Regions from separate parts of the Homo sapiens genome. Here all the other regions are linked to region 1. Evidence: fine-mapped expression QTL. A gene starts in region 1. Each other region holds a variant in brackets. All regions are shown on one strand. Distances are between the middles of the regions. Region 1 holds the start of CRYM (crystallin mu). Region 2 holds the start of LOC105371123 (a long non-coding RNA gene). Region 3 holds the start of ZP2 (zona pellucida glycoprotein 2).

What was found. PIP is the estimated chance that this variant, and not a neighbour inherited with it, causes the effect. A credible set is the group of variants that fine-mapping cannot tell apart.
Region 2: its variant is the best candidate, but not a certain one, in a credible set for the expression of CRYM in spinal cord (GTEx, PIP 0.78).
Region 3: its variant is the best candidate, but not a certain one, in a credible set for the expression of CRYM in lung (TOPMed, PIP 0.76).

Annotation. Positions count from the first base shown.
Region 1 is chr16:21,272,771-21,283,567 of GRCh38, reverse strand. CRYM (crystallin mu) reads left to right here and starts at 5,278. Exons shown (of 8, transcript NM_001376256.1): 1 at 5,278-5,486; 2 at 5,984-6,137; 3 at 7,974-8,036. The coding sequence starts at 5,317. RefSeq lists an enhancer at 5,277-5,486.
Region 2 is chr16:21,223,255-21,234,051 of GRCh38, reverse strand. LOC105371123 (a long non-coding RNA gene) reads left to right here and starts at 450. Exons shown (of 2, transcript XR_001752344.2): 1 at 450-560; 2 at 6,467-7,288. ANKS4B (ankyrin repeat and sterile alpha motif domain containing 4B) reads right to left here and starts at 353. Exons shown (of 2, transcript NM_145865.3): 1 at 151-353. The coding sequence starts at 314. The variant T/C (reference allele first, on the strand shown) is at 8,156.
Region 3 is chr16:21,210,967-21,221,763 of GRCh38, reverse strand. ZP2 (zona pellucida glycoprotein 2) reads left to right here and starts at 10,190. Exons shown (of 19, transcript NM_001376232.1): 1 at 10,190-10,278; 2 at 10,369-10,457. The coding sequence starts at 10,217. The variant T/C (reference allele first, on the strand shown) is at 2,036.

The DNA.
Region 1 (10,797 bases):
AGGACGACAGAGGTTAGGGATAAGGGGAATGAGACACGCGCCTTGGCTGCAGCATTCAAGGTGAAGCCAACTCAATAGTCAAAATAAAGACTTTTATACAATATTTTTACATTTTAAAATAAAATGTAAAGATAAAATTTCGTGAGGAGCTGTATTGGCATCTACAGCAAAAGGAAAAGTCAGTAATCCTGAGCCGTCTTTGTTGAAAATTTTTGTACTCTGTTCACTGTGGATTTTTTGGCATTGATTTTTATTTTAAATATTGCATTTAGATGTTTTAGTTTAATATTTATCATGACTACTGAGTGAATCCCGTACATTTTGTGCCATAGGTGAGTACCTCACTATGGTACAGCTCTACCCTGCTGCCATCTTCACTGTGGTAGTGGCAGAAGTCTAGGGGGATGTAAGTAACCACCTCCTCCGCAGGGTCTGTTAGGGGTTAGCAGGGAACTTCCAGAGGCTCAGGCACAGGAGCTTACATGGCCCCCAGGCTTGTCCCAGGACAAGGTCTCAGGGAAGGGCGGGGAAAAGAGATTTACACCAGCTTTCTCAATACTGACCCCTGCATTACTAAAAAGTTTATTAATCTTCTTTCTGTTAAGTCATAATTATAATAATAATTTCATTATTTTAATAATAATAAAATAAACCTCAATAACACCTAATATTTAATATGCTACTTATTAATAATACTTATTATTGGAGGCTTGGGACAATTAGTTCTCTGTGCCTCTGGTCTCAAAAGAAGTGATGCAACCAAGACTAGTTTTCTCAGTGCTACTTTACTGAGGACCTGGGTGATGTGAACCAAAGCTTTATCAGGAAGATGATTTGAGATGATTTGCAGAGTTGTCCTGTTTCTACAGGATTCACTGGAGTGAATTCCTATTATTGAGGTTTCTTATTTTGTCATTGTTAAAATAATGAAATTACTATTATAATCATGACTTAAAGAAGATTAATAAACTTTCTAGTAATGTGGGAGTCAGAAATAAGATTTCTATTTAATCGGGGCTAAATTCCTGAATTTACTATGGAAGCAAATAAATATCTGGCTTTCTTATTTCATATCTCTTTTAGTTGATGAGTATTTGGTTTTGCTTTTTTTCTCCTTGTTAACTTTAAAAAAAAAACCACACAATTTATAAATTTAGACAAGAAGAGACTTTCTTATACGAGGTTACAGCCTGCAAGGTGGGATCCTATGCTGGGAAGCACGCTGTATTATTCCGTTTTCATGCTGTCTATAAACACATGCCTGAGACTGGGCAATTTACAGAAGAAAGAGGCTTATTGGATTTACAGTTCCACATGGCTGGGGAGGCCTCACAATCATAGTGGAAGGCAAGGAGGAACAAGTCACATCTTACATGGAGGGCAATAGCAAAGAGAGAGCTTGTGCAGGGCAACTCCCATTTTTAAAACCATCAGATCTCGTGAGACTCATTCACTATCATCAGAACCGCAGGGGAAAGACCCGCCTCCATGATTCAGTCATCTCCCACTGGGTCCCTCCCACAAGATGTGGGAATTATGGGAGCTATAAGAAGAGATTTGGGTGTGGACATGGAGCCAAACCATATCACATGCCTTGGCCAAGATCAGAGACAGGCACTTTGAAGGAGGAGGGTTGGGGTAGGAGCTTTATGCTCAACAGGTTGGCTAAATATACATATTCAACAGGTGAGAGAAGAAGCTATGAATATTCATGAAAGTGGTCCTGATGCATGTGTATTTAACAAACATGCATGTTACATACAACTCATGTTCATTTTGGGGTGGTTGCAGCATTTAAATGTATTACAATTCAGCCTGATACGTCAAAAGGTCTTTTCAGGACATGAAGGCATGCAAGTGTGCAACCTCTGTAAGTCAGCCAGAACCATCCTATAGTCGGTAGTCTTATCAGGAGAAAGTTACTGAAATCAGTCTCTTGTCCAATCAAGCTGTAGTTATGGCTGGTGGAACAAGGGGTCGGTTAGTCAATATCTGTGATTTGGATGAGTTGTAATTGTTTTAATATTGCATATCTTCAGCCGGGCACGGTGGCTCATGCCTGTAATCCCAGCACTTTGGGAGGCCAAGGCGGGTGGATCATCTCAGGTCAGGAGTTCGAGACCGAGACCAGCCTGGCCAACATGACAAAACCCCATCTCTACTGAAAGTACAAAAATTAGCCGGGGGTGGTGGCATGCACCTGTAATCCCAGCTACCTGAGAGGCTGAGGCAGGAGAATCACTTGAGATCATGCCACTGCACTCCAGTCTGGGTGACAGAGAGGGACTTTGTTTCAAAAAAAAAATTTATATATATATATATGCACATATATACATATCTATATAGATACATAGATACATATACATATCTATATAGATACATAGATACGTATATATGTATATACATATATGTTTGTGTATATATATATATACAGAGAGAGAGAGAGAGAGAGAGAGAGTGAGAGAGAGAGAGAATCACTCTGTTGTCCAGGCTGGAGTGCAGTGGCACGATCTCGGCTCACTGCAACCTCCACCTCCCTGGTTCAAGCAATTCTCCTGCCTCAGCCTCCTGAGTAGCTGGGATTACAGGCACATGCTACCACACCTGGCTAATTTTTGTACTTTTTGTAGAGATGGGGTTTCATCACGTTGGCCAGGCTGGTCTCAAACTCCTGACCTCACATGATCCGCCCGCCTTGGCCTCCCAAAGTGCTGGGATTACAGGTGTGAGCCACTGTGCCCAAGCCATGTTCCCTATCTTCTCTGAGCAGGGCTGGGGAAAACAAAAACAAAAATATTGCTTATCTTCAAGCCAGTGCTTGTTTAGCTGCTGGAGAAAACAAAAACTCTGTGGCAGTTAGAACATAGCTTTTTTCTTTAAGTGTAAGGGTGCGTGACTTAACCCTTCCTGGCATGGCCTTAGATCCTGTTTATAATTTGTTATCGTATTGCCACAAAGAGTCTGTTCTGTCAGTCTTGTGATCTCTGTATTAACATTAAGGCTGCTCAGTTGTGTCTAAACTCTAAAAGGGAGAGGATGTAATGAGGCATATCTGATTTGCCATCCCATCATGGCTGGAAACTAAGTCTTTAAGGTTTTTCTGGGGTCTGCTTGGCCCAGAGGGGGTTCATTCAGTAGGTGGGGGGCATAGGATTTTATTTTTAGTTCACATTCACAAAAACAAAGGGCCAAAAAAGTCTTACTGTGTCACACAGGCTGGAGTGCAGTGGTGCAATCTTGGCTCATTGCAGCCTCCATCTCCCGGGTTCCAGCAATTCTCCTGCCTCAGCCTCCTGGGTAGCTGGGATTACAGGCACCCGCCACCACACCCAGCTAATTTTTGTATTTTTAGTAGAGAGAAGATTTTACCATGTTGGCCAGGCTGGTCTCGAACTCCTCACCTCAGGTAATCCACCCACTTGGGCCTCCCAAAGTGCTAGGATTACAGGCGTGAACTATCATGCCAGGGCTATATGTCTGTGCTTTCTAAACCCAATAAATGTGATGTAATATTAATGCTAACAGCACACGTGATGGGCCAGAAACATTTCTATAAGCCCAGCGGCTCTGGGCATAAATTTCTAGGGATGGTGAACCGAAGAAACAAAATTGTGTCATTGAAATCAGCTTTTCCCAACCACCAGTGTCTTCTCTCTCTCTCTCTTTCTCTCTCAGTGTTCACTTATTACATGGCTACTCTGTGCCAAGCACTGTTGCTAAACACATTATGTACAATTTCTCATTTCATTGGTACTGATTTTGACACTTACTCATCCACTGTCTTTTATCATGATGTGACCATTTCCTACAAAATGCCCTATGTAGCTTCCAACCAAAATACCACAAAGCACAACTTCAGCAGTCCTGCCTCTTGACCTTCTCCCAGGCTCTGCTCTCGCTCATCTGTTCCATCCTTTGCATTGGCAGAAGACCCATCTTTCTAAATGCTTACTCTCTTGGAGCATGTAATTTCTTTCCTAGGAATCACCATTCTCAGCTGCCTGACTCCAAGAATCGTTCTCAGTTTTATCTTCTGATGCTCCTAGACCTCAGCACCTTATTCCAGCCTAACACATCTGGCAACTCACTGTTCCCAGAGCTATTCAACATGCCTTCCACCTCAGGGCTTTACTTGGCCTGTAATGCCCTCTTCCTCTCTTTCTGCCAAAGTAGCTTAATGATTAGGAATATAATTCTGAAGTCCAACCATGGGCAAAGCCAGCTCCTCTGCTGACTTGGTGGATGACCTTGAACTAAATTTCTTCCCTTCTCAGAGCCTCCAATGGACAGTAAAACTAATAACAACACCTCCCTACCTTAGAGGTTGTTGTATAATTAAATGAGATAATATACATAAAGTGCATGGTGCAGTATCTGGTACATAGTAAAGATCAATAACCTGATGTTATCATTGTTGTCGTCACTATTATTATTTCAGACCTTGGTTTCTCCCCACTCTTTCATGAAGCCCTTATCTAACCACTCCAGGTCAAAATCATCTCTCTTTTCTTTGAATTAACTTACTTTTCCTATCACTGATTTGATGACTAGGATTTATTGCCTTAAGCTTTACATCATTCCTTTCCGATTTTATTTCCCCATCTCAGGTAAAAACTCCTGGAAGAAAAGATCCTGCAATTTGGCTTTTTGTGAGATGGAAAAGATTACACCTTGCCCTGCAAACTTCCCCCCTTTAAAGGCGAAGGTTTGTTAGGTTAGTTAGCCTGTGAGAAAACTGTGCGTTCTTAGCAATCAAAGGCCAGACATCTGGGGGTACAGGGGGGAGGAAGACTAGGATAAGAGACTCTAGACGGGGACAGAATTAAAAGGAAAAAAAAATTAAATAAGCCTCCGTCTCCTTTTATCTCCTAGCAGTAGGCAGTAATTTAATAAATAAAGGAGCCCCGTTAGCGTTTTCCCTGTCCATTCTTTCCCAGGCACGGTGACCTAGACAGCAGCAAAAAGCGAGTTAATAGGGAGGGGTTATGTAGGAAGCAAAAGTCAAGGAATGTGGCTACAGCTGATTACAGGAACTGAGAAAGTGGACCAAACAATATTGACTCCCAGCACGCCACCGCGATGTCCATCTTGGGGAATCCGTTGCTGGAAGGGACCCATCTCGCCCACCCTTAGGGGTCGAGGTGGGCGAAGGGGGAGGAGAGGGCTGGCGGGGCGGGGCGGGGTTGCTCCGCCCCCGGAGGCTGGGCTGTGACCAGCAGGCGGCTCCACAGAGCAGCGGGCGCGCTCATAAAGGGCACAGCCGAGGGTACGTGGATCGCGGTGCGGAGACTGAGGTTAGAAGGCACAGGTGGCGAGATGAGCCGGGTACCAGCGTTCCTGAGCGCGGCCGAGGTGGAGGAACACCTCCGCAGCTCCAGCCTCCTCATCCCGCCTCTAGAGACGGCCCTGGCCAACTTCTCCAGCGGTCCCGAAGGAGGGGTCATGCAGCCCGTGCGCACCGTGGTGCCGGTGACCAAGCACAGGGGGTGAGTGAGGAGGGTCGGGGTCAGGGGCAGGAGAAACTGGAAAGCGGGGAAAGGAGGAGCAGGAAGAGGAGGGGTGGGAGAAGGGAAGAGACGGCTTGCCTAACCGTTGCTAACAGCTGCCACTTTTAATAGGCGCTACCCGGTGTGCTAAGTGGGCGTTTTACAGGTGTTACCTTGTTTATTTCAGCACACTCTCCACCTAGGGAGGTATTGATACCACCATTTGATTGGTGGAAAACTGAGACTCAGAGAGGTTAAGTGACTTACCTAAGCTTACACAGCTACTAAGTGGCAGAGCTGGAAAGGTTTTCTGATCCAGAGCCAGACTTCTGAACATACTGTGCATAGTGTCTAAGGGAAGGGCAGAGGGATGCGGGGGCTGGAAGAGGGCCAGTGGGGTGGTGAGGAAGGAAAGAAAAAGGAAAGTATATGGATACTTTCTAAGAGACCCCAGCATTGATGGGAAGGGGCTGAAGCTGCTCCCTCTCTCCTTGTAGCTACCTGGGGGTCATGCCCGCCTACAGTGCTGCAGAGGATGCACTGACCACCAAGTTGGTCACCTTCTACGAGGACCGCGGCATCACCTCGGTCGTCCCTTCCCACCAGGCTACTGTGCTACTCTTTGAGCCCAGCAATGGCACCCTGCTGGCGGTGAGCAACTTCCTGTCCCGGGGTGGAATGGGGCCCCTGGGCCCAGATTGAAGCTCAAAAGTAAGTTCTCCGCAGCAGGGGGAGTCTTGATTGTGACTACGCGTGCCCCTCTGCAAGTGACTGGATACCAGCAACAGTGAAGGTTATCTGTGTCCATGTATCTATTTCTAGGACTGCCTGAGGATGCATAACACGGCACCAGCGCCCACTGCTGCCTCAAGCATGTGACAGTGTGGAAATAATAATCTTGTTGTCATTCTTGCATATGTCCTTGTCCTATACTCAGTTGCCCCAAATACGCAGCTTGAATGAACCCATTAGCCAAGGGAAGACTTACTTACTGAATCCTTGTCGACATGGAAAAGAAGGGGTGTTCTATAATCCCTGGGAGTCTTCAGAGGGGTATACGGTGTGACCTGTTTTAATATCTAATCATAGTTTCAAAAGGTAGCAGTAGCTTGTGTTTATGGAGTACTTTTTATAATGCATCAGGCACTTTTCTAAACATTTCACATTTATTAATCCTCTTAATACTTAAAACTATTCTATGATATGGGTAATATGATTACTCCCACTTTATAGATGAGGAAACCGAGTCAGAGCAACTATGTTCAACTTACCGAGGTTTATGTAACCAACAATTAGCATGGTTGGACTTCAGAGCTGCTCAGTCTAAGTCCACGGTCCATAGGTCCAGACTCTTCTAAGACCACCGCCATTTTAACTGCTACATATTGGGCACTTATGTGCCAAGAAGGAGACGCTGATCACATTCAATTCTGCAAAATTCCTCTATGGGTGTTTTTATTAACTCCCCTTCCCCCCAATTTCTGTTGAGGTCCTTGAGGCTCAGGTTAGTAGAGTCACTTTGCTTGAGGTCACACATCTGGTTAGTGAAAGACTCAAGAATCACTCCCAGGTGTGACAGTTAACTCTTAAGGTCTGTGCGCTCCAAGCTGGGTCTTACAATGTCCCTCCTTTTCCCCTGAATTTCTGGATCGCCAAATAATCTGGCCGTTTAACACTCCTTTGAGAATATCTAGCTTTCCCCAACTTACACTCATCCAACCGAGATGGCATTCATACTACCTGCCAACAGCGGTTCCCTAGGGGGGTAGAACCCAAGGCTTTGAAACTAGATGACAGCTGAATCTGCTCAGTGACTTCGTGATTCACTTCCTCATCTGTAAAATGAGGTTGATGATGCCTATTTTTTGATGATCAGCTGAGATGAATAACAGGGAGAGGAGTGCAGAGGATGGTTTTTACTAGCGAGGCATAATTTTCAACCTTCGCTGTGTATCGGAATCACCTGGGCTGTCTGGGTCTCACTCCTGGAAGAGATACAGACTGGGTTAATCTAAGGGTGGTATCTGAGCATCTTCACGAAGCTTTCCACATGTGCAGCAGGAACGGAGAGCCACTAAGAGTTTCATGGCCGTTGTCCAGATGTCAATTGGCAACCTTCTCTCTCTAGTTCCTTCTTAATTTGGTGTTTTGAGAATCCTAGGGCAAGAAAAGAAAATGGGCAGTTCTTGAGGGCTCACCATGTGCTAGATGTTTCCAGATATGCCAGTGCATTTAATCCTCACAATAACCCTCTGAATGGCTGGCATTATCTTTTTTACAGGTGAGGAAACCAGTGCTTAAAGATTAAAGTGTTTGTTCAAAGTTGCATATCTCGTAAGTGGAGGAATCGGATCCAGGTCTGACGCCAAACCCATGCTGTTTGTAGGATGCTATAAAACTTCCTAAGCTAATATTTTAGAACTGTTTCTTCTAATTTATGCAGTGGACAGGGGTTCCCCTTGCTCACTGTCTCTCTTTTCCTCCAAGGTCATGGATGGAAATGTCATAACTGCAAAGAGAACAGCTGCAGTTTCTGCCATTGCCACCAAGGTAAGATGAATGGCTGGCTGTACCATTAAGGTGAGCTGTCAAGTGGGGTCTGGTGTCTCAATCTTGAGAGACTAAAGGAGAAGTGGGGAACTTATTTTGGTTTCCTGTTGGACATAGCTGGAACTCCAGATGTCAGATATATCAGTAATTCACGAAATTATTAGCTACCAATTAGTGTGCATGACCAGATTTCAAGTACCTTATGTGCATAATTCTCAATCTTCCCATCAGTCTTGAAGAATCGAAATGAGAAATTCTCTCCACCTTCCAGGTCAAGGAATATGGCTCAGAGAGCTTCTGTGAATTGCCCAGGATCACACAGCTAATAAGTGCTAGAGTAAGAATTTAATACTTGACCTCTCTGGCTTCCAGGACTGGCTTCTTGTCCCTGTACCACATTGCCCCTGGTAAGACAGTATAATTGTCCCATAGACCAAAGCTAGTACTACACAAGAGGCTGAGTGAACTGAACATATCCAAGCCAGATCCCTGTATTCATTCGACAAGTATTGACTGGGCTTCTATCATGTGTCAGGCACTGTTCTAAATGTTAGGGAAATGGCAGTGAGAAAAACAGAGGGGCACACACAGGGGAGGTAGACAATACCAATAAAAAGGAAAACACAGGCTGGGTACAGTGGCTCACGCCTGTAATCCCAACATTTTGGGAGGCTGAGGCAGGCGTATCACTTGAGCTCAGGAGTTGGAGACCAGCCTGGTCAACATGGTGAAACCTCGTCTCTTGTAAAAACACAAAAATTAGCTGGTCGTGGTGGTGGGCGCCTATAATCTCAGCTACCCGGGAGAGTGAGGCAGGAGAAACGTTTGAACTCAGGAGGCAGAGGTTGCAATGAGCCCAGATCGAGCCACTGCACTCTAGCCTGGGCAAAAGAGTGAGTGTCTTAAAAAACAAAACAAAAAGGAAACAAAACAAAACAAACAAAAACATCTGTTGAGTTTAATAATGTGTTAAATAGTAATAAATAATATGTAATTAAATAATTAGTACATATTAATAAATGATTAATAGCGTGCTTAGAATTTGCTAAAAAATAAAACCAACAATAATCCAAAAAGCCACATAACATGTTAGGTGAAGATAAAGCAGAAGTGAGAGTATTGGAGAAGCTGTCACATTTTACATTATCCAAGAAAGGCCTCCCTGAGAAGGTGACATTTGAGTCAAAGCTGAAAGCAGTGAGTTAGCGAACCATGCAAAAACACGGAGGGGCACTCCAGGCAGAGGGAACAGTAAGCAATGGGGGTGATGATGTTCCCAAGCAATGTCAAGGCATCCTATAAGAAAAACAGCATTTTTAAAAGTTAGAGTTAAGAGGATGAGGCTTAGGAAACAGGGTGTCTGTGGGAACGATTGGAGTCTGGAGTCTTTCACATTAAATGTGGAAGTACAAGGTCTTGGGACACTGGTTTTCCTAAGTTATTATAAAGGAAACGTGGTAACCCAGGGAAAGTTGCAGCAGCAAAGACCAGGTGTTCAGGTTGCATGTCGAGGTTTTCTAGATACCTGCTGGGGAGGGAAGAATGGGAGGATTAATCTGGTAATTGTATGCGAAGGGAGTAGACCAACAGCACCCACCTCAATGAACTGGTTTTTAGTTATATCCAGACCTGACTCAACTGAAGTAATCAAGGACTCCTTGCTATGTTTGCTGGTAATTTGGGAACAGAATGAATCTTGTATTACTGTCATTTGCAAAGAGCTTTAGTCTTTTTCAAACTCATTTCCAGCCCCTTGTCTGGACTACGAGTTTCTGTGAGGAAGGCAGAGAAAGTATTAATGGCCTCATTTTACGCATAAAAGAATAGAAACTTGGGTTTCCTGAAGTCATACAACCAGGTTCCTGCGGGTCCTTTTGAGGCCACATGGTCTTGTCCCAGATAAGAAGTTTCCAACAGAAGCAAGCTATGCAGCAGCATTAGCTAGGGAAGTTTTTAAAAACTCAAATTCCCATGCCTACTGAATCAAAATCACAGAGTGAGGATCAACCAGGTCTGGAAACCACACTTTTGTAGACCCAGCCTGCAATAACACTGCTTTGTTGCATTAATAAAAATCTGTGCTCCCAGAAGAATCAAGAAGCCTTGGGTTGACACTTCAAAGTTTAGACACTTCAAAGTTTAGGCTGAAACTTCACAGCTTTATTTCCAGGGGCTCAGATGAACTGTTTCAATAAGGAACAAAGGGTCTATTTTACTTGTTGCCTTGAGAGTAGAATATTTTCTTGTCCATCATTTCTCTTCTATTTAGGGCTCTTGTTGGGGAGAATAAGTATACGGAGCTCTAGGGTCTGATGAACATAATACATTTTTTGTGCTTGGGTCTCACATAAGCTTCATTGAAGCCTCTGATATGTTTTCTCAAGGTGATAGTATATATTAGGGTTTAGCACTAACATACATTTATTCAACAAATATTTGAGTGTCCACCAAATGCAAGGTTCTGCGCTCAGCATGGGGTAAGCAAAACCAGATACAGTACTTGCCCTCATGTAGTACAGGGTCCAGTGGGGGAGGCAAGATATAGTCCAAAGATCACATCAATAGGCTGGGCGCAGTGGCTCACGCCTGCAATCCCAGCACTTTGGGAGGCTGAGGCAGGCAGATTACCTGAGGTCAGGAGTTCAAGACCAGCCTGACCAACATGGAAAAACCCCATCTGTACTAAAAAAAAAAAAAAAAAAAAAAAAAAAAAAATTAGCTGGGCATGGTGGCAGGTGCCTGTAATCCCAGCTACTTGGGA
Region 2 (10,797 bases), 50 kb after region 1:
ATAGTTTTCTCTCTTTCTCTAAAAATCCAATCATTTAGACAATCTAGAAAGAGGATAAAGTATTTGTATTGACGTCCCTGCCTCTTGCTGCTGTCTGCAAAAACCTACCATGAACACTGTTTCCAACAGAAACCATCGGGTTGAACTTACCCTCTACTGCAGATTATCTCTAGGGCTTCCAAGTTCCCATGGTAGGCTGCCAAGAGAGTAGGAGTCATGCCGTCTTCATCCGAAAGATTTAGATCTCGCTTGGTAGCCTCTTTTAGAAGTTCCAGGTAACTATCACTAGCAGCTTGGTGGTAACGAGTAGACATTTTTCCTGCTCACCAGAACTTGGCCAGATGTCTCTCCAGGCAGAGCAAGGTGTTGGCGGAGCAACCTTCCTATAGAGCTGGTTAATTAGTGACAAGGAAGAGTGTCACCAGGGGCAAAGCTCATTTCAACTGCTTCCTTTCACGGAAGGCAACAAGGTTCGAGGCACTGAACTTGGACCTTTTCTCTCTGGAATGGCCATGACGTTGACTATTGAAGACTGCTGTATTCATCTTGAGTGTTTGGAGGTACATTCAATTTTTCTATGTCCATTAGTTTCTTGAGTGTAATATTGGCCATCTAGGCACAGGATGTAAGAAATAATTTCTTAATAAAATGCAGAGCTACTCTAGTTCACTAGCTGTTTTTTCCAAAAAGAACAGCTTTATTGAGGTATAACATCATTAAATTTACCCATTTCATGCATACAATTCAATGATTTTTAGGACATTTATAGAGTTGCATGCCCATTATCATAATCCAGTTTCCATCAGCCCTTAAAGATCCCTCATGCCATTTGCTGTCAATCCCATTTCCACTCCCAACCTCAGGAAACCACAGTCTGCTTTCTGTCTCTATAGATTTGTTTTTTACGGGCATTTCAGACAAATGGAATCCTACAATATATAGTCTTTAGTGTATAGCTTGTTTCAATTCACATACTTTTTTGAGGTTTGTCATGTGTAGCATGTAATGGTTTCTTTCTTTTCACTGCTGAATAATATTCCACTGTGCTAACATACCACATGTTCTTCATCCATTCAATGTTTCATGAATATGATGAATATTTGGGTTGTTTCCATTTTTCAGTAATGATGAATAATGCTGCTATGAGCACTGATGTACAAGTCTCTGTGTGGACACATATTTTCATGTGTCTTGCGTATATATCAAGGAGTGAAACTGCTGGGTTGCATGGCAATTTACATTTAAATTTCAGAAGTTGCCAGACTGTTTTCCAAAGTGGCTGTACTACTTCACATTTCCACCAATAACGTATGAGGGTTTCAATTTCTCCACAACCTTGCCAGCCTTATTATTGCCTATCTTTTTGTTTATGGTCATCCTAGTGGATATGAAGTGGTCTTATTATGGCTTTAATTTTCAATTTCCTAATGACTAAGATATTGAGCATCTTTTCATGTGCCCATTAGCCATTCTTACATCTTCTATTCAAATCTTTTTGCCCAATTTTTAAGTGGTTGTCTTATTAATAAATTATAAGAATTATTTATATACTCTGGATACAAGTCCTATATCAGACATATTTGGAACAGAATGAAAATGAAAATACCACATATCAAGATTTATAGGATGCAGTTAAAGAAAAGCTTAGGGCAAAATTTGTAGTTTTTTATGCATATATGAGAAAGAAAAAAGATCTCAAATCAATAACTTAAACATATTATCAATAACTCAAGGGAAGGAGAAAAAGTATAGAAAAATGACTATAAGGAGTACAATATAAGACCAAAAAATTTCCAGATCTGTAATAAAAACAAAAGAAAATGGACTAAATTTATGATGTGGAAGACTCAGCCATGTCTTGTTTATAATAGACATATCTAAAATATAAAATTGCAGAAAGATTGAAAGCAAAAAATGGAAAAGTTATAGCAAGCAAATACTAACAAAACATTGGTGTACCCACATAGATGGTCTGCAACTTATGAGAGTTTGACCTAATTTTTCAACTTTATGATGGCACAAAAATGACAGGTATTTAGTATGCTTCTCAGCTCACAACTGAGTTATTATATCAACTTATGGTGGTTTTGCATTGTAAGTTGAAGAGCACCCGTATTGGTAGCAAGGAAAAATATAGCTTAAGCCAAAAAAATTTACTAGGCATAAAGAGAGATAATACATGATAATGAAAGGAACAATTAATCAAGAAACTATGATCGTTTTAAACTTGTATAAATTAAATAACACAGCTGCAAAAAAGGGAAAGCAAAAATTAAACAGAAAAAAAAAAACAAAACCACAATCATAAGGGAAGATTTCAGACATCATCATAATGTTCTATATCAGACTAAAGATTGGTATAGCTATAAAATATTTGGGCCGGGCACAGTGGCTCACACCTGTAATCCTAGCACTTTGAGAGGCTGAGGGGGTGCAGATCACGAGGTCAAGAGATTGAGACCATCCTGGCCAATATGGTGAAACCACGTCTCTACTAAAAATACAAAAATTAGCTGGGCATGGTGGCATGTGCCTGTAGTCCCAGCTACTCGGGAGGCTGAGGCAGGAGAGTCGCCTAAACCCGGGAGGCGGAGGTTGCAGTGAGCTGAGATCGCACCATTGCACTCCAGCCTGGTGACAGAGTGAGACTCCATCTCAAAAAAAAAAAAAAAGAAGAAAAACAGATTTGAACACAATTAACAAGCTTGATCTAACAGTCACATGGAGAAAGGACCCTGTGCCCAATAGTAAATGCATGTTTTTTCTAAGCACACAGAATATTTATAAAACCTGACCACTGAATAGAAGCAGTGCAGTTCTCGACAAATAACAAATAACAGGGTTCATGCAAACCGTGTTCTCTGAAGACACTGCAACTAAATTAGAAACCGCCATCCTTACATAACTCATCAACTATGCATATGTTCTCCTGTGGTGTATTTTTTACATTGTTTTCATCAAATACATATAATTTTACATTACATCTTTTCCACTCCTTAATCCATCATAAATATATCCCCATATTGTTACACAATCTTTAATATATTTAGATAATTGTCCACTAAACTGATGTGAGAAATATCTATTTTTGAAGCCTGTAACTGTATATTCCTCTTATCTCTTTTTGTCTAAGTTTTTATTCCAAGATAAATTATTTACCCACTCAGAAAAAGTACAAAGCTTTCATCTACAGTTTCTTCACAATAATAATGAGCTCCAAAGGTCACTGTTTGTTCCTTTTTCTGGCTTCTAGGTGAAGAGCAGTAGAAGCAGCCTGGAGGGCAGCATTATTTAGCTTTTTTTAAACATTGTTTTTAGCCCAGAGAGAGTGACATATCCAAACATGATTATGAATACTGTGAGAAAATGGTAAGGTTCTTCATCAAGTTTTGCATGAGCCACTTTAATTTAGATACAACTGCATTCATTAATGCACTTTGAAATTTAAAAACAGGTCAGGCGAGGTGGCTCACGCCTATAATCCTAGCACTTTGGGAGGCAAAGGTGGGTGAATCACTTGAGGTCGGGAGTTGAAGACCCACTTGGCCAACATGGCAAAACCCCATCTCTACTAAAATACAAAAATTATCTGGGCATGGTGGTGCACACCTGTAAGCCCAGCTACTCATGAGGCTGAGGCAGGAGAATTGATTGAGCCTGGGAGGCTGAGGTTGCAGTGAGCCAAGATCACACCACTGCACTCCAGCCTGGGTGACAGAGTGCAAAAAAAATAAAAAATAAAAATACATATAACCGATAGAGAACTTCTCAAAGATGTATTATTTGTAGTAGAATCCTAAGACTCCAGCCAAAGGGTCTGCTTTCAGAAGATAAGGATGAGGAAGAGGAAGAGAAAGAGAAGAATAGTGGCCACTAGGATGGTCATAAGCCAAATTAGGATGAGGATTGTCAAAGTCAAAATAAAAATTTAGAGCTGAATCTCTAAATTTAATGTTTTATTTGGAAAAAGACTTGCAATTTGGGATACACACATAGACCAGGTGGTCTTCAGTATGTCTGAAGAAGAAAAGAGAAGTTTAGAGGTTTTATTAACAAGAGAAATGTTACATATTGCTCTTCAAGAAAGTTCATTGGCACTAGTAAGGGTTTGGGGAGCTGGCAAGCTCTGATTAGTGGGCAAAATTTGTCCTAGAGTTGCAGCAAGTTATCTCAGCAGCTGTAAATAAAACTGCTCCCGGGTTACAGCAGGCAGTTCCAGCAGTCAGTCTTGCTGAGAATTACGTTCTTGGAGCAATTTTTATTTATTTATTTATTTTTTGTACTCGGAGTGCTTTCTCCCCCAACTCCACCACCCAGCCTCTCAACCCTGATTTAGTTGGGTATAACAAGAATGATGCAATTTGCGTGATTAAGTTTCACAGGATGGAGGCAAAGGGTAAAGAGGACAGAATAATTATAGAGATGGGGAAGAAGGATTGGAGATAGAAGACAAGAAAGAGAAAGAATTTCTCAGTTCCAGCAGTCCTTAGGACTAGAACTTAAAGTCTCCTGTGAAATGGCGAAATAACCAAACTTTCTTAAATGGTAAATATCCTGGCATCCTCTGGCACGCCCTTGGGAAAATTTCCTCCTTGGGAGAAGAATGGGGTGGCAGGGGCAGCGGGGGGTGGGGAAGTGGGGGCAGAGATAAGGATTTAAAACATTTTTCTGAACTTGAAGATCCTCCTTATCCTATCCCTTCAAGGTGAGGTTGGGAAGGAGGGTTGAAGACCTAGCGTTCATATAATCCAGGAAAAGTTACTCCATCTATTTGAGTCTCCATATCCTTGTGGATAAAACTGGGGGATGTTGCTAGTGATCATATCATCATTATCATCAGCATCAACTAACTTTAGTAAAGATGAAGAAATAAAATTTCTTGCAACCCATAAAGCATGTTTTTACAAACTAGAAGTAGTGTGATTGTGGCTTAGGGAACAGACAGAGGAAGTTTTAGCCCAGTAATCATTTTTGAATTCCTCAAAGCCCAAAGGAAACAAAATTGGTGGGAGATGGTAAGGGCAGAAATTAATAAAAAGAGCTAACACGAATTTGCATATAATGTAGACATTAATTCCTTGTGAGGAGTCATGGTAATTGTGGGGGCAGTTGTGGATTTTCTTGACTGTACTGATCTTGTGGAAATTAGTATTTGAGCGTGTTCCATCAGCATACAGCTGGACTCTTGGAAGGCCAGAGAAGAATATTTGCCAGACACACACTGGAGAGACTTTGAGGCTCGGACCTGAGTGGCAGTGACCCCAAGTCAAAGCTCTCATCAACCTTCCTGTTGGAGCCTCGCCATGCTCCTCATATCTCCCCATACTCCTGCACTACTAGTATGTCTCAACTTAGAGAAACATCCTGTCCATGACCTCTGTGTTCCCTTGACTCTGACTGACACTTAGGTTTAGACAGGCAGGTCTTATTTCCTCCTGCACTGTCCTAAAACTCTAGAACCTCAACCTATTATCTGGAACCCCAAGCAGTTGGTTATTTAATGATAAGAAGCCCTTCTCCACAGACACCACTTCTTTTTTGCCAAAGACCCAGAGAAAACATGGTTAATCTGCTTCTAGGGGCAGCACTTGGAGAGATTCTCTCATGAATGGTTCCCCTCCTCCCCCCAGAGCAAGGACATTGTCAGCTTCTCATTGCTGTGTTTATGATTTTGCAGTCTCCCCTAACATCATAACAGCTGACAGTAGCTGACAACTAGGTAGTCTTAAATAGGTGTTCCTTCTACCATGGAGTCCAATCCTGGCCCAGAGGAAGTAGCATTTGGATGAAGAATTTACCTGGAACTCTGACTATCTATAAAACAGAGTCATGTGTGTTCCTTTGCTCAGGGAGAGGAAAAGAAGGGACAGAGATGATGGTAGTTGATACTTCCAGTCTAACTCCAAGAAAAAAACAACACTTGCAAAGTACAAACCAAACTTCTTCCTCATTGTTCTGAAAAACCATTTGCTGCTAATTGGGAAAGAAATTCAATGGCTTGTGCAACCCAGAAACACATATTTTCAGTAATGAGATTGCCCCTGTGTCCTAAGAGATCTGGTTTTCAAAAGCAGCCTGTGTTTGATCTCTAAAGCTATTCATGTCTAATTAGAGAAGAAATTCACTTGTATGGTAGGGAAGCACATTTTTTTTTTTTACATAAGAAGGAAAAAGATCAGAGTAGAACACTGCTTTTAACAAGATTACTTCATCTAATGAGGATCTTATTATGAATTTTAATGAAAATAAAAACAGTAACAAAGTAAGGGAAATTAGAGAGTAATACAAAAGTCCTGTTGTTCCATAGAAAACTTGCAGGAACCAGGCAAGGACAAAAGAAGCCATCAGTAACACACTGCTGTATGCACTGCCCTTGGGTTTATGAGAGACTATCTGTTAAGGTAAAGATGTGCTCAAATATATTATCCAGAAAATGTCACTTACATGTGTATTCTTTTCTCTTTAGCACAATGATACAACTGTTCAACCTATTTGATATGGATTTCTCCTATTCGGAAGAAATTTCAACAACTTCACTTCTAACTTAAACACATTCATCGACTAGCCTGGCCAACATGGTGAAACCCCGTGTCTACTAAAAATACAAAAATTAGCTGGGCGTGGTGGCATATGCCTGTAGTCCCAGCTACTTGGGAGGCTGAGGCAGAAGAATCACTTGAACCTGGGAGGCAGAGGTTGCAGCAAGCCGAGATTGTGCCATTGCACTCCAGCCTGGGCGACAAGAGCAAAACTCCGTCTCAAAAAATAAATAAACAAACACATATAACACTGTCAAAATAAGGAGAAACTTTCTTTCCCACATTGAAAGTCATTGATGTTTTCCTTAAAAGCATTGTATCATGTTTGTATTCTTTAACAATCAAAAAGAATCATTGTCTGCCTTTTTGTTTCTTCTTTTCTAAATGAAAACATTTATAAAAATATTTAAGTGGATAAGTTGCCTATTGAAATTGTAATGTCCCTGAAGTATTGGTTGAGCTTAATTTATTCATATAAGTTTCAAGCCATTCAAAGGCCTATTTTTCTGGCAGAAAACTAAAGACAGAGCTGTTATTGTACCATCTGGTTTGCATGAGGAATCTCTTGGCATCTCTTAACTGCACATTTTATAAATGCTAAATCCCAGATGGCATACATTGTAACAGTGAAGAGTTTTATAAAGGCTTCCAAAAACAAATTCTTTCAAATTTGAATACTGGATAGTCTAAGCAGGGGCTAGGAATTTAAATTCTACACTTGATTAAACTGGCTTTGTTAGCTGAACAAATTTCCCTTTTTTCTTATGTCTTTCCTTCTTCCTAATTATTGGTTCTGTGACTTGAAAATTTCAATCCATGTAATTCTTCTACCAACAGGTCCCCTCTATAACTCAAGTTCTAGAAAAACTGCAGGAACGACAATCATTGGAAAAACCTATGTTAGGTGCCATTTTGTTTCAAAGATGGTAGAATTTACCACAAGGGAGGTGTGTTATAGCATCCATTAGCAGATCATCAAATACCATCAAAACCGTTCAACTCTTACAAAGCTGATGGTTGGATTGGAAAGACAAGCAAATGTAAACTCCAAGCATTGTGTTGAAATAAAGCCAGAGTAGAATAATGATTGAGAACATGGGGTCTGAAGTCAGAGACTGACAGATATTAAGCCCCAGATTGGATCTTCCCATTAAGTTGGGCAAATTACTTCTCCCTAAGCTTTAGTTTCTTCATCAGTAAAATAAAGACAGTACTTTTCTCTTTAAAAGAGAATCATTCACAGGGTTGTTGCAAGTAATTACTGAATATTTGTAAAATACTAAGTACAGTTTATGGTGTGTAGTCAGCACTTAATTAAAGTAAATTAATAGTAGTACTAGCACTAGGAGAAAGAAAGTTTCTCCTTTCTTTAAGTCAATCTATATAAATGCAGCATTTTCTTAAAACTTCTCTTTTCTCTGCATTTTCCTTCTCAATAACAACAGCCGAGACCTAGTTTTGTTTTTTTTTTTTTGTCCTACCCCTTATCATGGTATAATAAAAATAATATATATTTTACAGTCACACAGAATTGAATTTCAATCTGGGGTTTTGTAATAGTTTACTAGGACTTCCATAACAAAGTACCACAGACTGAGTGGCTTAAACAAATTTAT[T/C]TTCTTACAGTTCTGAAAGCCAGAAATCTGAAATCAAGGTGTGAGCGTGGTTGGTTCCTTTTGAGGGCTGTGAGGAAAGGACCTGTTCCAGGCCTCTCTCCTGGAAAAAGACTTGCAAATGGCCATTTTCTCCTTGTGTCTTCATGTCATCTTCCTCTTCACATGTCTGTGTCCAAATTTTCTCTTCTTATAAGGACACTTGGTCCTTATAAGATGGTCATATTGATTAGAGCACACCCTAATAACTTCATTTAACATCATCACCTCTGTAAAAGCTGTATTAGTCTGTTTTCACACGGCTATAATGAAATACCCGAGACTGGGTAATTTATCAAGGAAAGAGGTTTAATTGACTCACAGTTCCAACATGGCTGGGGAGGCTTCAGGAAACCCAATCCTGGCAAAGGCAAAGGGGAAGCAAGCATCTTCCACACACAGTGGTAGGAGAGAGAATGAAGGAGGAACTTCCAAACACTTATAAAACCATCAAATCTCATAGGAACAAACTCACTATCACTAGAACAGCATGGGGGAAATCACCTCCATGATTCAATCACCTCCCTCCCTCAGCACGTGAGAATTACAATTTGAGATGAGATTTGGATGGGGACACAGAGCCAAACCGTATCAAAGGCTATCTCCAAATACAGTAACATTCTGAGGTGCTGGGAATTAGGACCTCAACATGAATGGTGGGGGAGATATATTTTCAGCCCATAATAGCTTTCTACTACTATCAACTGGAGGAAAATTCACCTCAAGGAGACTTCATTTCATTTTCTTACTCCTATCTGGATTATTTATAAATCAGTGCTTAGCACAAGGTCTATACATTGTGGCCTTGACAAAAACTTTCTTCCCTTCTTCTTAGAAAGACTCATGAACTCACATTGTTTCTGGGAACCACCTACTCTTTCCCAGAACTCTGGATGAAACGTGAACGATGTACATGTGGCTTACAAAACCTGCAGAGGACCAAATGAGGAAGGAGTGGCTTACAGAGCTATGATCAAAGGAGACTTAGCAGGACTCAGCTGTTATTTGAATGGTGGGGGACATTTTATGGAAAAGATGCTTTAAAGATTATACAAAGGTGGCCAGGCATGGTGGCTCACACCTGTAATCCCAGCTCTTTGAGAGGCCGAGGTGGATGTATCACCTGAGGTCAGGGGGTCAAGACCAGCCTGGCCAACATGGTGAAACCCCATCTCTACTAAACATACAAAAATTAGCTGGGTGTGGTGGCACGCACCTGCAGTCCTAGCTACTTGGAGGCTGAGGCAGGAGAATCACTTGAACCCAGGAGACAGAGGTTGCAGTGAGCCAAGGTTGTGCCACTGTACTCCAGCCTGGGCAACAAGAGTGAAACTCTGTCGCAAAAAAATAAAAAAAGATTATACAAAGGTGAGAATCAACTTCTTTAAACACAGGGGAAAAAGTAAAAAGCAGAGATGAGGGGAACCCTGGATTCAATTCCCAGGACTGTCACTAAGTAACTGTAGGACCTAGAGTTATTGTCCCTATCTGCAATCCAGGTTCCTTGCCTCTCATATAAGGAGGTAGCAACCAAATTCTGTATCAGTCAGGTTTCATCAGAGAAGCAGAACCATTCTGAGTGATATAGAATAAAGGGTTTATTGCAGAGATTAAGCTTATACCTGGAAGCCAGGTAAGCTGTCTAGTAAGGCTATTTCTTCTGCACCAGATGTTAGACCCAAAGTCCGTAGGGCCAGCAATTGGGAAGTAAAGATGGAGAGGAAGTAAAGAAAAAGAACAAATTAGAATCTGCAGAGACAAATTGGAACCCCAGAGAATAAAACGAAACCCACGCCTGTCTCTCACCACCCCCAACCTCGACGACACAGGTGTCTACAGGATAAGCTGCCACCTTTCACCATAGACAAAGCTGCAAACGCACCTGGCCTAGGATTCAGAGAAGCTGAAGGGGGAGATCTGGACGGAGTGGGAGGAGCTGCAGGTTCGCCTCCTGCCCCACGCCCACAGGGTGAGCAGCAGCTCAGCCACTATATGCATGGTCTCTCCATGGTTTTGGAAGTTACAGGCTGCTGGTGGATGGGAATAAATATGGCCAGAGATATGTCTTGTTTGGCAGGCACAGGATTTTGAAAATATCTTTAACATTAAATATCAACATTAAAATTGAGGAAATTGAATGGAATCTGGATTTTCAGCTTCCAGATGAGAAACTGAAGATCATGACAATTACCTCTGCCTGAGCTGGGAAGCAGTTCTTTTTTTTCTTTTTTCTTTTTTTTTAAGATGCAGTTTTGCTCTTGTTGCCCAGGCTGGAGTGCAATGGCGCGATCTCAGCTCACTGCAACCTCCGCCTCCTGGGTTCAAGTGATTCTCCTGCCTCAGCCTCCAGAGTACCTGGGATTACAGGCATGCGCCACCATGCCCGGCTAATTTTTTTGTATTTTTAGTAGACAGGAGGTTTCTCCGGGTTGGTCAGGTTAGTCTCGAACTCCCAACCTCAGGGGATCCACCCACCTTGGCCTCCCAAAGTGCTGGGATTACAGGTGTGAGCCGCTGTGCCCAGCCAAAGCAGTTATTTCTTTAGATGCAGCCTGGACTCAACAGTCCACATCACCCCCAGCTGCCCAGAGCTGTAATCCTGACCC
Region 3 (10,797 bases), 62 kb after region 1:
GGCATCTTACACACTCTCTGAACAAGCAGAGTCCTGCCATAGTTAAAAACAGCAGCTTATTTCTTGCTATATCACTGCCCCTTTATATGCAAGCTACTCTAGAAAAACATATATATGTATCTATATGCATGCATAAACATACACATACACATACCACTAATCTCTTACAATATTGACTTCTCTTGGTTCTTGAAACAACCTCAGCATAGGCAAACCCACATACCCATCTAGGATAAAGACAACCAAATGAGTATCCAGGTATTCTCCAACAAGAATCAAACAAGTAGAAGAAAACTGCAGAGCTCGAAGACAAGGCTTTTGAGTTAACCCAATCCAACAAAGACAAAGAAAAACGGATTTTAAAAATGAACAAAGTCTCCAAGAAGTTTGGGAGTATGTTAAATGACCAAACCTAAGAATAATTGGCATTCCTGAGGAAGAAGAGAAATCTAAAAGTTTGAAAAAGATATTTGAGGGAATAATTGAGGAAAACTTCCTTGGCCTTGTTAAAGATCTAGACATCCAAATACAAGAAGCTCAAAGAACACCCAGGAAATTCACCGTAAAAAGATTATCATGTAGGCACATAATGATCAAATTCAAGATGAAGGAAAGAATCTTAAGAGCTGTGAGGCAAAAGCATCAGGTAACCTATAAAGGAAAAACTATCAGATTAACAGCAGATTTCTCAGCAGAAACCCTACAGGCTAGAAGGGATTGGGGTCCTGTCTTTAGCCTTCTTAAACAAAATAATTATCAGCCAAGAATTTGGTATCCAGTGAAACTATGCTTCATAAATGAAGGAAAAACACAGTTTTTTTTCAAACAAATGCTGAGAGAATTTGCCACTACCAAGCCAGCACTACAAGAACTGCTAAAAGTAGCTCAAAATCTTGAAACAAATCTTCAAAATATACCAAAATAGAACCTCCTTAAGGCATTGTCTCACAGGACTTATAAAACAAAAACACAATGAAAAAAAAAACACAAGGTATTCAGGCAAAAACTAACACAACGAATAGAATAGTACTTCACTTCTCAATACTAACACTGAATGTAAATGGACTAAATGCTCTACTTAAAAGATATAGAATGGCAGAATGAATAAGAATTCAGCAACCAAGTATCTGCTGTCTTCAAGAGACTCATCTAACATGTAAGGACTCACATAAACTTAAAGTAAAGGGGTGAAAAAGGACATTCCATGCAAACGGACATCAAAAGTGAGCAGGAATAGCTATTCTTGTATCAGTCAAAACAGACGTTAAAGCAACAACAGTTAAAAAAGACAAAAAGGCAAGGTGTGGTGGCTCATGCCTATAATCCCAGCACTTTGGGAGGCTGGAGGGGGCAGATCACTTGAGGTCAGGAGTTCGAGACCAGCCTGGCCAACATGGTGAAACCCCATCTCTACTAAAAGTACAAAAATTAGCTGGGCGTGGTGGCACATGCCTATAATCCCAGATACTCAGGAGGCTGAGACCGGAGAATCTCTTGAACCTGGAAGACGGAGGTTGCCATGAGCCGAGATCACGCCATTGCACTCCAGCCTGGGCGACAGAGCAAGACTCCATCTCAAAAAAAAAAAAGACTTCTGGGCCTTCTGTCTTCCATATATTGATGCCGCCCTACCTTTATATTTATAGATCGATAAAGCTTTCATCCTAGTTCTTTCTGAATTTATTACTGTCAGAAGGCTCATTCAACTTGGATCTGTCTAAAGGACCCAAGGGGAAAACAACATTAACATTGTATATTAGATTGGTAAAGGAACTACCATATGATGTTCGAGAACATTCTCATTGACATAGTCTATCTTATTTTTCCAAGTTAAATTCATATTTGATATTTGAAAGCTATTTTGAGCTGCATTAGCATAACTGGGAGAAGTTTTTATATTATTTATCTTATACTGCTAAAATTCTAATTAATGTCATCTTGTACTTTTAAAAGACAAGTGAACTGCAAGAGAAGCACAGAGTTTTAAAACACCCCCGCATGCACAGACACACACACACAGCGAGAGAGAGAAAAT[T/C]GAAATGAATTAGAAAGGGCAGGGAGAGGCATCAGGAGACCTGGTTTCTCACTGGAGCTCTATCTGCTACTAACTTGGTAAATGACCTGGAGCAAGTCACTAAACCTCTTTAGATATTAAACCTCTTAATATCTTCATTTTACCATAGGGAGTTGGACTTTGTTTCAAAGCCTCAAGTTCCGGATCCATTCATTTCGCCTTTTTACCTTTATACTACTGAGTTTTCATCCTTGAGCCTTAGACTCTGTAACTTAGGTAGCTCACTCAGAAATCAGTCAAAATTATTATTAAAAAAAATTTTTTTTTGTCCAGGCACGGTGGCTCACACTTGTAATCCCAGCACTTTGGGAGGCCAAGGCGGATGGATCACCTGAGGTCAAGAGTTCAGGACCAGCCTGGCCAACATGATGAAACCCCATCTCTACTAAAAATACAAAAAGTAGCCAGGTGTGGTGGCACACGCCTGTAGTCCCAGCTGCTGGGGAGGCTGAGTCATAAGAATAGCTTGAACCTGGGAGGCAGAGGTTGCAGGGAGCACAGATGGTACCACTGGACTCCAGCATGGGTGACAGAGTGAGACTCTGTCTCAAAAAACTAAAACTAACTAACTAAATAAATTTTTAAGAGACAGGGTCCTGCCATGCTGTCGAAGGTGGTTTTGAATTCCTGGCCTCAAGTTATCTTCTAGCCTCAGCCTCCCAAAGTGCTGGGATTATAGGCGTGAGCCACCATGCCCAGTCTATAATTATTTAATTGGTTATTTTATCACTAAAACAATTCAACCAAAACAGAGGGAATAAAGTTGTTGGAACCTCACCAATGCACCTTAATGTAGACTTTCTCATTGTCTGAACTAGTACCCTGGGTTCTTTGTCCTACCTCCTAGAAAATTAAGGAACATGGACACAAAGGTGGGTTGGAGTGAAAGTTTAATGAGGGAAAGAGGCCAGGTGTGGTGGCTCACACCTCTAATCCCACCAGTTTGAGAGGCCGAGGTGGGTGGATCACCTGAGGTCAGGAATTTGAGACCAGTCTGGCCAATATGATGAAACCCCATCTCTACTAAAAATACAAAATTAGCCGAGTGTGGTGGGGCATGCCTGTAATCCCAGTTACTTGGGAGGCTGAGGCAGGAGAATCTCTTGAATCCAGGAGGCAGAGTTTGCAGTGACCCGAGATCACACCATTGCACTCCAGCCTGGGCAACAAGAGCGAAACTCCGTCTCAAAAAAGAATAGTAATAAGTGAAAGAAAAAAATTCTCTGCAGCAGAGAGGGGAGTCCAAGTGGATTGCCAGGTTACAGCTGAATTCAAAAGCTTTTTTAAGAAACTCCTCTCTCATCTCTAGCAGTTTGAGTAACTTCTCATCAGTAAAGCTGTCTGTGCAACTCCCGGTATCTTACGCAACTGTGGGCATGTATCTAGGCAAGCACAAAGCCTGCGTCTCTTGTTTTGATAACTGCGGGTTTGTTTTAGGTAAGCCCCCCTCCTCCCTGTGTAAGTTCCCACCATGGATATGTCTGAAAAGGGGAGGAAACTTTTTCCTAGGAGCTCGCTAATTAGACAAAGTTGCTTATCTGTGTGCAGGTGCAGCCTGTTTATCCCAAATGATTTTTCCTTTTCTTCTCCCTCAAAGTCAGAAAGGCAGGAGTTACTTATTCTTTAAGGGCTGAAGGAAGAAAACTCCCACCTTTGCACTCTGAAAGTTCACTGAAAATAAACTGACCAAAGGCAGATGAATAAGAGAAAAATTCATACAAAATTATTAATGTGCAGGGGAAGGTGGGAATCACAGAGTAATTGCCCCTAAACCCTCAGTGGGGCACAGATGCATATATACGGTGGGTTTTCTTTTTTTTTTTTTTTTGAGATGGAGTCTTGCTCTGTTGCCCAGGCTGGAGTGTAGTGGTGCAATCTCGGCTCACTACAGCCTCTGCCCGCCGGGTTCAAGCGATTCTCCTGCCTCAGACTCCTGCGTAGCTGGGATTACAGGCACACACCACCATGCCTGGCTAATTTTTTATATTTTTAGTAGAGACAGGGTTTCGCCATGTTGGCCAGGCTGGTCTCAAACTCCTGACCTCAGGTGATCCACCTGCCTCGGCTTCCCAAAGTGCTGGGATTACAGGTGTGAGCCACCGTGCCTGGCTGTATATACAGTTTTTCATAGGGGAGGGAGGAGATGGGGACTGTAGACAATTCTCTTGAGGGGCAATAATGATTATCAGGGAGAATGAACAGACCAGGGAGAGAGAAATTAACTTGTACATAATTATCTTTGGAATTTGACTGAGCTTCAGAGGCTGACATTATCTTGTGGAAAAGTCTGTCCATGTGTGGTTACATTCCTTAGTCTCCTTTCCTGCTATAGATAATGAGATTTCAGGGAGGGGATAGAAGGCAATAGTGTTTCTTCTGTTAAGAAGCTGCCTTGGCTGGGCCCAGTGGCTCATGCCTGTAATCTCAGCACTTTGGGAGGCCAAGGCAGGTGGATCATTTGAGGTCAGGAGTTTGAGACCAGCCTGACCGTCATGGTGAAACCCTGTCTCTACTAAAAATACAAGAAAAAAAAAATAATTAGCCATGGTTGCTGGCGTGCACCTGTAATCCCAGCTACTTGAGAGGCTGAGGCAGGAGAATCACTTGAACCTGGGAGGTGGAGGTTGCAGTGAGCCCAGATCATGCCATTGCACTCCAGCCTGCGCAACAAGACCAAAGCCCTGCCAAAAAAAAAAAAAAAAAAAAGAAGGAGCTTTCTTTTTTTTTTCCCCAGAGAGAGTTCCTTCCTGTACTTTGGGGGTGGAAAGGGAACAAGGCAAGGATAGAGAGACCTTGATTCTGAGGCTTATTTCTGAAGCCTTTTAATTTTCCAAAGCACTTGGCATGCCCAGGCACATTTGGGGAATTGTTTTCTGTGCTCCAACCCTCCCATCTCCTTAATCCTATTCCCGGTGATGATATTCAATGTATTTAAAACCCATACAGCAAAAGCACGAACAAGTCAGAATAGACAATGGTCGCAAATGCCCAGCACAGCCACGTGGACTCCCCGGACCCTGGCAACCCTCTCCTTTCCTGGATGATGCTGTCGATTCTCTGGGACAACTTTCTTGACTTGTAATCCAAATACATATGTATAGACCCACATGCAGACACATAAAGTATAAATATACACATAAGTTTGAGAAAGAAAAGAAACTTTTTATCTGAAGAATGCAAGTCCCTTTAAATTATCAGGCCCAGAGAGGCATTGAAACGTGACAGCAGTCACACCTCACTCCCTCGGGCTCAGTAATTATCTCTTGGAGCTACTTGATATGTGGGCTCTAGACTGACACCAAGTAGCCATAAAATTAACCTAACTATGCCATACACTGGACATCATAACTCATACCATATGCTGGACGCCATTAATCATACCCTATAGTTCAACAATGTATAGCCAATCACTAATCAGTGTTTTTTTTTTTTTTTTGAGATGGGATCTTGCTATGCTGCCCAGACTGCCTTAAAAGTCCTGGGCTCAAGCTATCCTCCCACCTCAGCCTCCTGAGTCACTGTGACTACAGGTGTGAGCCACTGTACCCAGCTAATCAGTGTTATTTCTGTAAATCAATGAGTCAAGAAACACTGTATCAGCCACTAATCCCAGCACTTTGGGAGGCCAAGGTGGGCGGATCACGAGGTTAGGAGACCATTCTGGCTAACATGGTGAAACCCCGTCTCTACTAAAAATACAAAAAATTAGCCAGGAATGGTGGTGGGCGCCTGTAATCCCAGCACTTTGGGAGGCTGAGGCAGGTGGATCATGAGTTCAGGAGATCAAGACCATCCTGGCTAACACGGTGAAACCCCATCTCTACTAAAAATACAAAAAATTAGCTGGGCGTGGTGGTGGGCGCCTGTAGTCCCAGCTACTCGGGAGGCTGAGGCAGGAGAATAGCGTGAACCTGGGAGGCGGAGCTTGCAGTGAGCTGAGATCGTGCGACTGCACTCCAGTCTGGGCGACAGAGCAAGACTCTGTCTAAAAAAAACAAAAAACAAAACAAAAAAAACACCCACTTGTGACAAAAGTGGAGAACTCACCAAGGCAACTTGGAAGTGTTTCCTGGGCAGCTGTCCACACTTTGCCTCAAGTAAACTCTTTAAAACTATATTCTCTTCTCCTTCCTTTAGGTCGACAGGTTTTTCATTTTCCTATTAAAGCAAAACATGAAAGCATAGTAGATATATAGCCCTGAAATTCCAGTTTTATTGCAGACATCTTTCATGTCAGTACTCACAGATCTGAACGAACTCATAGAATCATTTGCAGTAGCTGAAGAGTATTCCATAGTTTATCCAACCATCTCTAGATGGTGATATTTAGGTTGTCTTTTATAAATACTTTTATAATTGTTGTGGAAAACAAGGGCAGCAGATTCAGAATTTAAGAATTATAAACTGTCATTTATAAGAACCACACTTCAGAAAGGAAGACATCTGCCCAAATGAGGCAACAACAAAACTATAGTCTTTCTTTTATGTATGAGAACCCCGTCAAGAAATGCCTTGTGATTAGCAAGAGAGAAATGGTTTCATGATACATAGAACCCAGGGCAGAGAAGAGGAGAAGGAACACCTTGTAATAATAAATCAGCAAACTTTAAGAGGTTCATTGAAAAGAGTGTGGAACACATATATTTGAACGAGGTCTGCTGTTTGTTTACTGCCTTTTTTTTTTTTTTTTTTTTGAGACAGAGTTTCACTCTTGTTGCCCAGGCTGGAGTGCAGTGGCACAATCTTGGCTCACTGCAACCTCTGCCTCCTGGGTTCAAGCGATTCTCCTGCCTCAGCCTCCCGAGTAGCAGGATTTACAGGTGTGTGCCGCCATGCCCAGCTAATATTTTTGGTAGAGACAGGGTTTCACCATGTTGGCTAGGCTGGTCTCAAACTCCTGACCTCTGGTGATCCACCCGCCTCAGCCTCCCAAAGTGCTGGGATTACAGGCGTGAGCCACTGCACCGGGCCTATTTAGCGCAATATTTTTTTAAATTTAATTTTAATTTCCAGGATACATGTACAGGACATGCAGCTTTGTTACATAGGTAAACGTGTGCCATGGTGGTTTGCTGCACCTATCAACCCATCACCTAGGTATTGAGCCCCGCATGCATTAGCTATTTATCTTGATGCTCTCCCTGCCCCCACCCCCCAACCCCTGTCACCAGGACCCAGTGTGTGATGTTCCCCTCCCTGTGTCCATGTGTTCTCATTGTTCAGCTCCCACTTATAAGTGAGAACAGAATGTTAAGAATCATTTTTGTAATAACTTTAGTTTTTCCTACCTCCTGATAGGAGACACTGTTTTACGGAGCAGCTATTTCTTCCTGTGTTCAAAGTCAGTTGCTGAACAGATGGTAGCTTCCTGCTTTTCCGGAGCAGAATCCTAGACATGGATGCTCCTGGGCCCAGAGCCATTTGTTCGGTGGCTGTCCCCAGCACACCACAGGTCTGGGTTAGGTGAGACAAACAAAATTAATCTCTGGTGCACATACCAGCTTCACCAGCCCACAGCGGGCTTTCTCACCACATCTCCTGCTTGGGGTCTCTGTGCTGCCCCTTAACCTTTTAGAAACCCCAAATTTGGGGGCTCTGACCAAAGCTGCCCTTTCCAAGGCAAAAACTTCCCGCTCTGGAGAAAGACACCATCTCGAGGGGAGTGAGTAGCGCGGTGGGAAGGGAGGTGGGGTCTGAGGGAGGCTGAATAAGCACATTAACCCATCACTTCTCTGACCACCTTCTCAATAGGGCTCTGAGTCTCACGTCTATGCTCCTTTTTCCTCTAATGTCTTATCATAGTCTTAACCATTGTGGCAATAAATTATATTTGTAGAAAAGGTGCCACTTTTCAGAAAAATATGCATAGAAGGAGAAACTATTGCTATCATGCTTTGGCTATAAAATGAAATCCTTTTACCATCTCTATCCCCAAAAACTTATCTGTATTTTGCTCCTTCTTCCCAATTCCGCTGGGATGTAATCTACTCAATTCCCGTAAGGAGGTTAACCACTGGCCACCACAGATTTTCTCGCCTCGCTCCCTCCAAGTATTTTCCAGGTTTTCCTGATTATAAGAATCACCTGTGGTGCTCGTTAAGTAAATATTTCCCAGGCACATCTTCTGGAGAGTCTAATTCAGCAGCTTTTGGGTGGGACCCTGGAATCTGTGATATTAATGAGAGCTCCATGTGATCCTTTTGATCAAGGAAGTCAGGGAAACAGTTAATCTCCAATGTTATTTCAGATGCCTCAGGTTACACCTCAAAGGCAACACATGAATCAATACAGTTTAGGATGATGCAAAAATAATTGCAGTTTTTGCCATTAAAATTAGTGGCAAAGGGCCGGGCACAGTGGCTCACGCCTGTAATCCCAGCACTTTGGGAGGCTGACACGGTTGGATCACTTGAGGCCAGGAGTTCGAGACCAGCCTGGCCAACATGGTGAAACCCTGTCTCTACCAAAAATACAAAAATTAGCTGGGCTTGGTGGTGGGCGCCTGTAATCCCAGCTACCCGGGAGGCTGAGGCAGGAGAATCGCTTGAATCCAGGAGGCAGAGGTTGCAGTGAGCCAAGATTGCGCCACTGCACTCCCACCTGGGCAACAGAGCAAGACTCCATCTCAAATACATACATACATACATAAAAGTAGCGGCAAAAACTGCAATCACTTTTGCACCAGCCTAATAATTGCAAGTGTCACCCACCACTTGAATGGAGTCTAAGCCTTATATCCACCTATTTTGGAACATGGGCTGCAGACATCTAGTTATCTCAAAGAGTGTGAGAGATGTTGAAAAAACACAACCATCAGGCCTCAGGAAATCTGAGTTCTCCACCTGGTCCCTGACATTGTTGGGGCAAGTTGCCTTGCCTCAGTTTCCCCACTGGGAAACTTCCAAGTGCTTTACAACAATATAACATTCTTATTAGATCACTACTCCCTTTTACCCAGAAGTTTTACTTTGAGGAATTTATCTTGAGGGTTACCCAAGGATATGTATCAGAATGCTCATCATGTTACTGCTTATAATGATGAAAAATTACAAGCCACCTTATGCTCATAATTAAGGAAATTATATAAACACAGATTTATCTCAAATTGAATATTATGCCACCCTAAAATGGTAACAGAGAGCTTTATGTTTAATAGTTATAAAGTGACAGTAGCAGATTACAAAACAGTATTTAAACTTTCCTCCCAGTGTTTTAAAAAAATTGTGTGTGGTGTTTGTAGAAACATGTCTAAAGTTACTCACCTAAATATTAGCAGTGGCACTATTATGAGTGACTTTTGCCTTTTCTCTGTATCCTTCTGAAATTGTATCTTTGCGGTAAGCTTAAGCTTTTACACTTGGGGGTCAACAAGGCTTCATTCATTTTTTTAAAGACACTTCCTGTGCATTATCAGGGTAACTTCTGCAGTAGCCAGAAGACTAGATGTTACTTAAAAGGTTTTAGGGTAGGTGCAATGGCTCACGCCTGTAATCCCAGCACTTTGGGAGGCCGAGGCACGTGGATCACCTAGGTCAGGAGTTCGAGACCACCCTGACCAACACGGTGAAACCCAATCTTTACTCAAAATACAAAAATTAGCCAGGTGTGGTGGCGTGCACCTGTAATCCCAGCTACTCAGGAGGCTGAGGCAGGAGAATTGCTTGAACCCAGGAGGCAGAGGTTGCAGTGAGCCGAGATTGCACCAGTGCACTCCAGCCTGGGTGACAGAGTGAAACTGAATCTCAAAAAAAAAAAAAAAATGTAGTGGTGTGAACAAGACTTGTTTTTTTCTCAATAAAGCCCATGATTCTCTTTGGCTCTACATTGCAGTTGTAAATAATTTGCCCAAAAGATCCTAATTTCCCCCATAGTTATAGGGAAAACACCAATTCACTCACCTGGAGCTGATTTCAGCAAACTCTGATTTCATGCCTGGCCCACAGGGCAGCTGGCAGAATACCCGGCGCAAGCTGTCAGGAATCAGAGGCCACTTCCTTCCCCAATCCTTCCGTTTCAGCTGGGAGAATGGGACAAGATTCAGGTGCCCCCAATGGGGAGAGGGTGTGGATGCGGCTGGCTTCCTGCTATAAAAACACAGAGCAGCCTACCCTCTACCTGGTTGATCTGGTAGTGTCTTCTGCTATGGCGTGCAGGCAGAGAGGAGGCTCTTGGAGTCCCTCAGGCTGGTTCAATGCAGGCTGGAGGTGAGTAATTCTGGAAGTGGAGGGAGGGGGTATGGTAGCTTTGTTTGTTAAAGTCCATTCTTCCTTGACTATCTCCCTGTCTCTTTCCAGCACCTACAGGTCGATTTCTCTCTTCTTCGCCCTTGTGACTTCAGGGAACTCCATAGATGTTTCTCAGTTGGTAAATCCTGCCTTTCCAGGTATGTCTCTTGGGTGACAGAAGTCTTCTTAGCAGAGAAAACAGGTTGCAGCTGGAAGGCCTAGCTGGCCAAGAAACACAGGCCTGGCTCAGACAACCTCCATTCACCCCCTTTATTACCTTGGTCAGGTTACTGGATCTTTCTTCTGCTAACCTGTAGACTCACTATACCTGCTAAATGAAAACTCAAACACTTGCACTGCCTTCCAATCCCTCACTGCCTCAAGCTTTATGGTATCCACAGAACAGCAAACCACCACACTAAGCCCTCATCTTTAGGAGCAGCAATCTTCAAACACAAACTCATGCTTAAGGAAAACATCGACATAACAAGCAAAACT